Linked DNA regions of Homo sapiens: region 2 is linked to region 1. Evidence: fine-mapped expression QTL. A gene starts in region 1. The other region holds a variant in brackets. All regions are shown on one strand. Distances are from middle to middle.

What was found. PIP is the estimated chance that this variant, and not a neighbour inherited with it, causes the effect.
Region 2: its variant is the best candidate, but not a certain one, in a credible set for the expression of MRPS23 in whole blood (TOPMed, PIP 0.55).

What each region holds. Positions count from the first base shown.
Region 1 is chr17:57,847,384-57,851,770 of GRCh38, reverse strand. MRPS23 (mitochondrial ribosomal protein S23) reads left to right here and starts at 1,727. Exons shown (of 5, transcript NM_016070.4): 1 at 1,727-1,804; 2 at 2,361-2,531. The coding sequence starts at 1,761. RefSeq lists enhancers at 1,232-1,741, 1,417-1,746.
Region 2 is chr17:57,825,946-57,830,332 of GRCh38, reverse strand. No RefSeq gene overlaps it. Among named protein-coding and RNA genes, the nearest start is that of MRPS23, 22 kb to the left of the region's middle. The variant T/C (reference allele first, on the strand shown) is at 2,565.

The DNA of each region.
Region 1 (4,387 bases):
GCAGTGAAATCCACCTCAGGTTAGCCCTGGGCCTCAAATCACTGGATCCCTGGCGTGCGTGTGTGTGTGTGTGTGTGTGTGTGTGTGTGTGTGTGTTGTGGGGGGGGCGGGTGGGGAGCGGCGTTCTGCTGGACTCTTGAGCCTACCAGCCTCGAGCTTTAGGCATAGCTTAGGCGGCATTGTGAGGCACTGGAAAGGGCCCTGGCTGCCCCACCCCCCCAAGGCTGGCTCTATCAGTTGCTTATCAGACAAGTTATGTAACTTCCTGAGGCCTTGCTTTCTCATCTATAATGAGGATGTTAATAGCTACCTTATGGGAAGGTATGTGGATTCAGTAAGATAACACACACAAGCAGTAACTACTCATCAAACAGTCCCGTCCTCCCCTTCACCAGCCTCAGAGTGGGAGGACTCTAGGATGACTTGACTAGGCTCCCAGGAGACATTGTGTGTGATTCAAAACATTCATTGGATTAAAAGTTCAAATATGAATACAATCTCTTTACAAGTCAAACTCTGAAGCATGTGTAAAGGAAGAAAAAATTCTCCCTTGCCTGCCTGCAGTTTCACTCCGAGATATCCAATGTTCACAGCCTTGGGTGTCCTTCTGCAGAATTTCTATCCTCAAACACAAACATATATAGAGGTGTTTCTTTTTCCTTTTTTTTTTCTAACACGTTGAGATTCCACTAAACATGTTTCTTTGCAACTTCGTTTTTCATTTAAACATAAGTCATGTACCTTAACCTTGGTAAATACATGTGGATCTAGCTCATTCATTTTAATAGCTGCATAGGGTTCCAAAGAAAGTATGAACAATAATTTTCCAGCTATTTCTCATCTGATGGATTTTTTTTCCCACTACAAACAATGCTGCAACGATGATCCTTGCACAAACATCCTCATGAATTGATGCTTTAATTTCTAAGGGGTTCTTTCCCCGAAATATGATTACTGGGTCAAAGGGTATGCTACACACAGTTTATATTTTTTTACAGTTTAACACTGAGAGATGACTTTCTCCAGATTTTTTCGTTTCCCTCTCGGCGTCTGTTTGTTCCGGACACTTTCACTTTTCGAGTTCCAAGGAGGAGGTAGCCCGCGACACCGGCCGCGGGAAACACGAGTTGCAGCCAGCATCCTAGTTAGCGTGGATGCAGGTGGCACTCCGGGGACGAGGGGCTTAGTGGGGAGCACTACACAGCCAGAGGCGGAGGCCCGAGATCTAGCACGACGCTGGGCAAGTGACGGCCCCTCCCCGGCCTTGGTTTTCTTCTGCGTAGTCTGTGACTCTAAACAACATTAGGCTCAGCCTGGGCCTAGAGCTGGTGACCTCAAATCTCGGCCTTTGTTGGCTCCCCTAGGACTGTAGGCTGCGCTTCACCCCTGCTCTGCCCCACTACTTCTCCTCCGCGCGGCCCCACCTTTTCAGAGGAGTTGGCTCAACAAGGCGAGAGAGAGTAAAGCAACCATCATGATGAATCCCTCCCACAGCTCGGTCATTTATTACTTCTGTCCGGCTTTGGCTCGCTCCTGCCCTTTTGGCTCGGCTATCGAGTGCTCCTGCCTGAACCTGGCAAGTAACCTCGGAGCGCGCCCGTTCGGCCTATCACTTGCTTCTGCCTGCGCCGCTCTCCCGCAGGGGCTGCGGTGAAAGCCCAGCGATCCTTGGCTCGGCCAGCAACTTATGCGCCCTTTACCTGGAGCAGCCGCTTCCGGTTCCGGTAGCAGCTAGTCACGCTCGGTACCAGGCGCAGATCATGGCAGGCAGCCGGCTGGAAACCGTAGGGAGCATCTTCTCTCGGTGTGTGCTCCCAGCCGTGGTGGGCTGAGGGTGCCTCCCCCAGGCTGGGGTTCTCAGCCGGTCACGCTCTTCCTTGGAGCGGACCTGAGCAGGGCGAGGCGTATTGCAGGGTGCGGGGGCTGAGCTGGGTGAGGCCCTCTCATGTTTTCTCCTGGCTCCGAATAGTTGTGCCTGAGGATGCCTCTCCTTGAATTTATGTGTCATGTTAAAGATTATTGCAGCTGCCTCTCCCCGAGTGGAGGTCTCTAGGAAGAGGAAGGGAGGAAGAGCCTGATGGGCCTTCCTTATCAGGTCATGCAAGACCGCTCTTTGCATTTTTCCGTGACCGAACGTGGGTGGGACGCACAAAAGAAGATAGAGGGATTTAACTCTCCTGAGCGTTGTTAAGTTTGGTTTGGGATGTGGACAGATCTTCTCTGTAGGTGGGGAGCAGTCCTTCCCCGTTCTGTGTTGCAGACCGCATAATACCTTTAATGTCCCAAACTGTGCTAGACTGATTCAGGGGCTTTGGCAGGCTACTGCAAGTGACCCAGTTTCGTTCTGTTCCCTCCCTAAGGACTCGGGACCTGGTTCGGGCCGGGGTGCTGAAGGAGAAGCCCCTGTGGTTTGACGTATATGACGCCTTTCCCCCGCTGAGGGAGCCCGTCTTCCAAAGGCCTCGAGTGCGATATGGCAAAGCCAAAGCTCCCATCCAAGACATCTGGTACCACGAGGATCGGATTAGAGCGTGAGTGCTCAGCCCTGTAGTGGACAGGAGGCAACAGAACTTCAGAAGGGAAGGTTTCGGTAGCAGTCTGGGAATTCAAACATGAAATTGAGTCAGGGGTTTGCCCTGTGGAGAAGGCTTATCTAGCCAAATTAGGGAGGCAGCACCCCTTCCTCATAGTGAAACTGAAGTTCTGAAAAGTGGAATCTGGAGCCCAGCAACCGAAAGATCATTGCAATTATAGCCGCATGTTTCTGGGCATCTGCTTTGGGCCAGGCACTGTACTAAGCTCTTTGCAAGCATTATCTCATTCTCTAAAGGCCTTACTCTAACTTGTAAGGAAGGCATTCTTGTTTCCATTTTATTCAAGGAGACTGCGAAGCTCAAGGAAATTAGCTAACTTCTTGTAATTACTAAATATATAGGAGGGTGGCAGATCTGGGAATCACATCTCTGACTCCAAGCTTATGGTGATCATTATGCCGGCCTTCTCCACGAGTGGAGATAGGAGGAACGTGGTCTGTGGATCTAGTAGTCCGGCTCTTTGAAGCCACTCAGATGAAAGGATGCTTGAAAGTCTAAGAGAGGCCGGGTGCGGTGGCTCACGCCTGTAATCCCAACACTTTGGGAGGCCAAGGCGGGCGGATCACCTGAAGTCAGGAGTTCGAGACCAGTCAGACCAACATGGTGAAACCCCGTCTCTACTAAAAATACAAAAATTAGCCGGGCATGGTGGTGGGTGCTTGTAGTCCCAGCTACTCGGAAGGCTGAGACAGGAGAATTGCTTGAACCTGGGAGGTGGAGGTTGCAGTGAGCCGAGATCCCACCACTGCACTCCAGCCTGGGCGACAGAGAGAGACAATCACTAGGAATTTGAAGGAAAATCATGTGTTCTTTATTTTTTTTTAGCATCCCTTTTCTCTTTTTTTTTCTTTTTCTTAAGCTCAGTGGCAAGAATACTTCCTCTTTTATTATAAAAGCAACACATGCTACTTGTAGAAAATTTAGATACACAAAGAAAGCATAAAAAGAAATCACAGGCTGGATGTGGTGGCTTGTGCCTGTAATCCTAGTGCTTTGGGAGGCATAAGGGAGGATAGCTTGTGCCCAGGAGTTTGAGACCACCCTGGGCAACATAGCAGGACTTGTCTCTACCAAAAAAAAAGTAGTTGTCTTAGTTTACACTCTGATTAGCAGTTTCTGAGAGTTCTTACTTTATCCTTGTCAGTATTGATAATGATTATTTAAGAATTTTTTTTTTCTGGGCCAGGCACGGTGGCCCACGCCTGTAATCCTGGCACTTTGGGAGGCTGAGGTGGGCAGATTGCCTGAGCTCAGGAGTTCGAGACCACCTTGGGCAATATGGTGAAACCCTGTCTTGACTAAAATACCAAAAATTAGCCGGGCTTGGTGGTGGGCACCTGTAGTCCCAGCTACTTTGGATGCTGAGGTGGGAGAATCGCTTGAAACTAGAAGGTGGAGGTTGCAGTGAGCTGAGAGTGCACCACTGCACTCCAGCCTGGGCAACAGAGGGAGACCCTGTCTCCAAAAAAAAAAAAAGTTTTGTTTTTTTCTGATCTAAGTATTTTTTTTTTTTTCGAGATGGAGTCTCACTCTGTCTCCCAGGCTGGAGTGCAGTGGCGCAATCTCGGCTCACTGCAAACTCTGCCTTCCGGGTTCATGCCATTCTCCTGCCTCAGCCTCCTGAGTAGCTGGGACTACAGGCGCCCACCACCACAGCTGGCTAATTTTTTGTATTTTTAGTAGAGACAGGGTTTCACCGTGTTAGCCAGGATGGTCTCAATCTCCTGACCTCGTGATCCGCCTGCCTCGGCCTCCCAAAGTGCTGGGATTACAGGCGTGAGCCACCGCGCCCG
Region 2 (4,387 bases), 21 kb after region 1:
GGGTTCAAGTGATTCTCTAGTCTCAGCCTCCCCAGTAGTTGGGATTACAGGTGCCTGCCACCACGCCTGGCTAATTTTTGTATTTTTAGTAGAGATGGGGTTTCACCATGTTGGTCAGGCTGGTCTTGAACTCCAGACCTCAGGTGATCCGCCAGCCTCGGTCTCCCAAAGTGCTGGGATTACAGGCATGAGCCACTGCCCTCGGCCTTTTTTTTTTTTTTTTGAGATGGAGTCTTGCTCTGTAGCCCAGGCTGGAGTGCAGTGGCGTGATTTTGGCTCACTGCAACCTCCGCCTCCTGGGTTCAAGTGATTCTCCTGCCTCAGCCTCCTGAGTAGCTGGGACTACAGGCATGTGCCACCACACCCAGATAATTTTTGTATTTTTAGTAGAGACGGGGTTTCACCATGTTGGCCAGGCTGGTCTCGAACTCCTGACCTCAAGTGATCCACCGTCCTCGGCCTCCAAAAGTGCTGGGATTACAGGCATAAGCCACTGCGCCTGGCCATAGACTGGCTTCTTAAAAGAACCAGTTTAAACACCTGTAAGTCTAAGAAGGTCAAATTTAGGAAAATCTCATCTGCAGGACTGAGGTCCCCTGAGCCACTGGCCACTTGTAATTAATATTAATGAGCTCTAGATGACAGATGTTTATTGCTCGACTGACACATGCTTTGCCAACCCCCAAAGGAGTGGCTGTAAGATCTAAAGGACTTGAATATACTTTAATTTTATGTTGAAGAGAATAAAACTTTCCGGGTATAGTCAGGGGTTTTTTACGATGAGAACCCATCGACCCATAGGCAATGTCTGCCTTAAGAAAAAAAGAACTGAGTGTACCCCGGTTCTTTATTGACATTTAAAAATAGCTCCTTTTGTCCAAAAATGAGGCAGACATGAGACAGTAGATAGGACACTGGGTAAGGCTCCTGGAGACCCCAGCCTGGCCCCAGCTCATCCATTTGTTGGCTGTATGACTTTGGTAAGTCTTCAAACCTTTTTAGCCATTTGTAAGATGAGGGGGTTGAGCTACAAGATCCCTGAAGTCCTGTTCTTTGGGTCCATGGGTCCAAGCGGAGCTCCAAGAAGAGCAGAATCAGCATCTTCCAAGATTTATTAAATACTTCTTTAAAATCTTTTCAGGCTGGGCACAGTGGCTCATGCCTGTAATCCCAACACTTAGGGATACCAAGGTAGGCAGATCACTTGAGGCCAGGTGTTCGGAACTAGCCTGGGCATTATAGTGAGACCCCCATCTCTACAAAAAATTTTTTAAAAATTAGCCAGGTATGCGTGGTAGTGTGTGCCTGTAGTCCCAGCTACTCCAGAGGCTGAAGTGGGAGGATCCCCTGAGCCCAGGAGTTCGAGGTTTCACTGAAACCTCGATTTATGATCATGCCACCGCACCCCAGGCTGACTGACAGAGCGAGACCCTGTCTCAAACACAACAAAACAAAACAAAACAAACCCACATTTTAAATTTGATTATGGAAGCATTCATAAAAGTAGAGAGAATTGGCTGGGTGTAGTGGCTCATGCCTGTAATCCCAGCATTTTGGGAGGCCGAGGCAGGTGGACTGCCTGAGCTCAGGAGTTGGAAACCAGCCTGGGCAATATGGTGAAACCCTGTCTCTACTAAAATACAAAAAGTTAGCCAGCCATGGCAGCGTGCACCTGTAATCCCAGCTACTCGGGAGGCTGAGACAGGAGAATTGCTTGAACCTGGGAGGTGGAGGTTGCAGTGAGCCGAGATCGCGCCTCTGCACTCCAGCCTGGGCGACAGAGCAAGACTCCATCTCAAAAAAAAAAAAAAAAAAAAAGAATCATATAAAGATCCTCCATATGTTTATCATGTAGACTAAACCATTATTAATATTTTGCTGTTTTTGCTCATCTATATTTTTTCTGAAGTGTTTTTTTTTGTTTTGTTTTTTGTTTGTTTTTTTGAGGCAGGGTTTTGCTCTGTCACTCAGGTGGGAGGGCAAGTGGTGCAATCATGGCTCATTGCAGCCTCAACCTCCTGGGCTCAAGGGATCTGCCCGCCTCATTTTCTGAGTTTTTGTAGAGACAGGATCTCACCATGTTGTTCAGGCCGGTCTCGAACTCCTGGGCTTAAGCAATCCCTCCACTTTGGCCTCCCAAAGTGCTGGGATTACAGGCATGAGCGACAGCTTCCAGCTTTTCTGAGGCATTTTAAAGCAAGTTCCCACAAAACCTCTCTCACCCAAGGCTTCAGCCTGCTTCTCTGGAAAATAAGACCCTTTCTTATATCAATACAATACCATTATCAAACCCAACAACATGGCATTTAACAGCCAGTTTTTGAAGATTTCCTCGTACTCAGTCCATTTTCAAATTTCCCCACAATTTTCTGAACAGGCTCTCCACCCCTCCGACCCCAGGCCTGTTCTTGGGGCCAACTAGTTTTAACCATTTCTGTTTTTAGTGCGTCTGGTGGGTACCTTTACATCTCTAAATAATCAGCTTGCTTTTTTTTTTTTTTTTTTTGAGACAGAGTTTCACTCTTGTTGCCCAGGCTGGAGTGCAACGGCGGGATCCCTGCTCA[T/C]CGAAACCTCCGCCTCTTGGGTTCAAGCGATTCTCCTGCCTCAGCCTCTTGAGCATCTGGGATTACAGGCATGTGCCACCAGGCCCGGCTAATTTTGTATATTTAGCAGAGACAGGGTTTCTCCATGTTGGTCAGGCTGGTCTCTAACTCCCATCCTCAGGTGATCCGCCCGCCTCGGCCTCCCAAAGTGCTGGAGTACAGGTGTGAGCCACGGTGCCTAGCTGGCTCCCGCCTTTGTAAGATGAAGGTAAGAGCCAATGGTTTCAACAGACAGCTGGATGGACTCAGGGTCCAAGAAGTCTGAGTGATCATGAGAAGAACTAAACAGAGGGTGAATGCTTTCAGATCCCAGGACTGTAGGATATCTTTATGGCTTGTCTGCAGCTATGGGTCCCAGGCCCCTGAGCAGGAATCTGAAGGAGGGTCCTTCCCAGAGTTAAGGCTGTGTCAGTCCCCAGGCTACTGTGGTCAAGTCGGCCTGCTTCCCTCTTGCTCATGAAGGTCTGTTCTCTCTGGAAATGTCCCAGAAGCTGGCAATAAAGACAGTTCCCTTTATAGAGCAGCTGCTTCTTTTTTAAAATTTAATTATTTTTAATTTTTTCTTTTGGAAACAGGGTCTCGCTATGTCACCCAGGCTGGAGTGCAGTGGCATGATCAAAGCTCACGGTAGCCTCTACTTCCCAGGCTCAAGCGATCCTCCTGCCTCAGCCTCCTGAATAGCTGGGACTACAGGTGTATGAGACCCTGTCTCATTTTTCAATTTTTTTGTACAGATGGGGTCTTTCTTTGTTGCCCAGCCTGGTCTTGAACTCCTGGGGTCAAGCGATCCTCCTTCCTGACCTCCCAAAGTGCTGGGATTACAGGTGTGAGCCACCTCGCCCAGCTGAGCTGCTGCTTCTGAAGCCTGCTTTGACATTAAGCTGTTACAATGCATTGAGGGATGCTAGGAAATGGTTGTATGAGGCATACTTTTGTTTTTTTCTGTGGGAATGTTACTGACCATTTTTTCCTCTATGAAGACCCGTGGGATAAATATCTTTCACGTTTTAGCTTAAGGAATAAAAAACTGTGCTGCTTTTGAACAACTTGGGTGGTTTGCTTCTGCGGTCTTGGCAAATTTGGTGTCTTAGTTTCCCTCTTAGCTTTGGCTGTGGGGAAATTCAGAGCTTAATTTACAGTTACATGCAGCTCTGGAGTAGGAGATGGCATTATTTTTGATTATTATGAAATATTTCAGGCATTCAAAAATTACAGAGACTCTACAACAAATATCTACTTACCCATCACCCAGGTTAAGACATGAGCTTCTTGTATCCATTCCTGATCCCTTTCTTCTTTGTCCCTACTCTCGTGGTGGATATTTTCCTGGACTTGGTGTTTATCTTCCCTACTTAAAAAATAATAATTTTTTCTACAAACGTATGTATCTATAATAAACATACAGTATTGTTTTACACATTTAAAAATATTATAAAAGTGGCTTTATACTGCATGTATCCCTCTGTAATTTGATCTTTTTACTCAAGAGTTTTCTTTTGAAACTCACCTGTTTTGCCACATGTAACTCTAGTTAATTCATTTTCACTGCTGTACAATATTCTATTCTAAGACTAGATGTATGAATATGTAGGCTTTAAGAGTATGGCTCTGGGGCCAGGCTGCCTTGGTTCAAACCCCAACCCTGCCACTTACTAGTTCTGTGACCTTGGGCAAGTGACTTAACCTCCTCTTCTCGTCTCTGTTTCTTCATCTGTAAAATGGGGCTAATGATACCACCTATCTAATAGAGGCGAAAATAAATGACTTAATAGGTGAAAAGCATT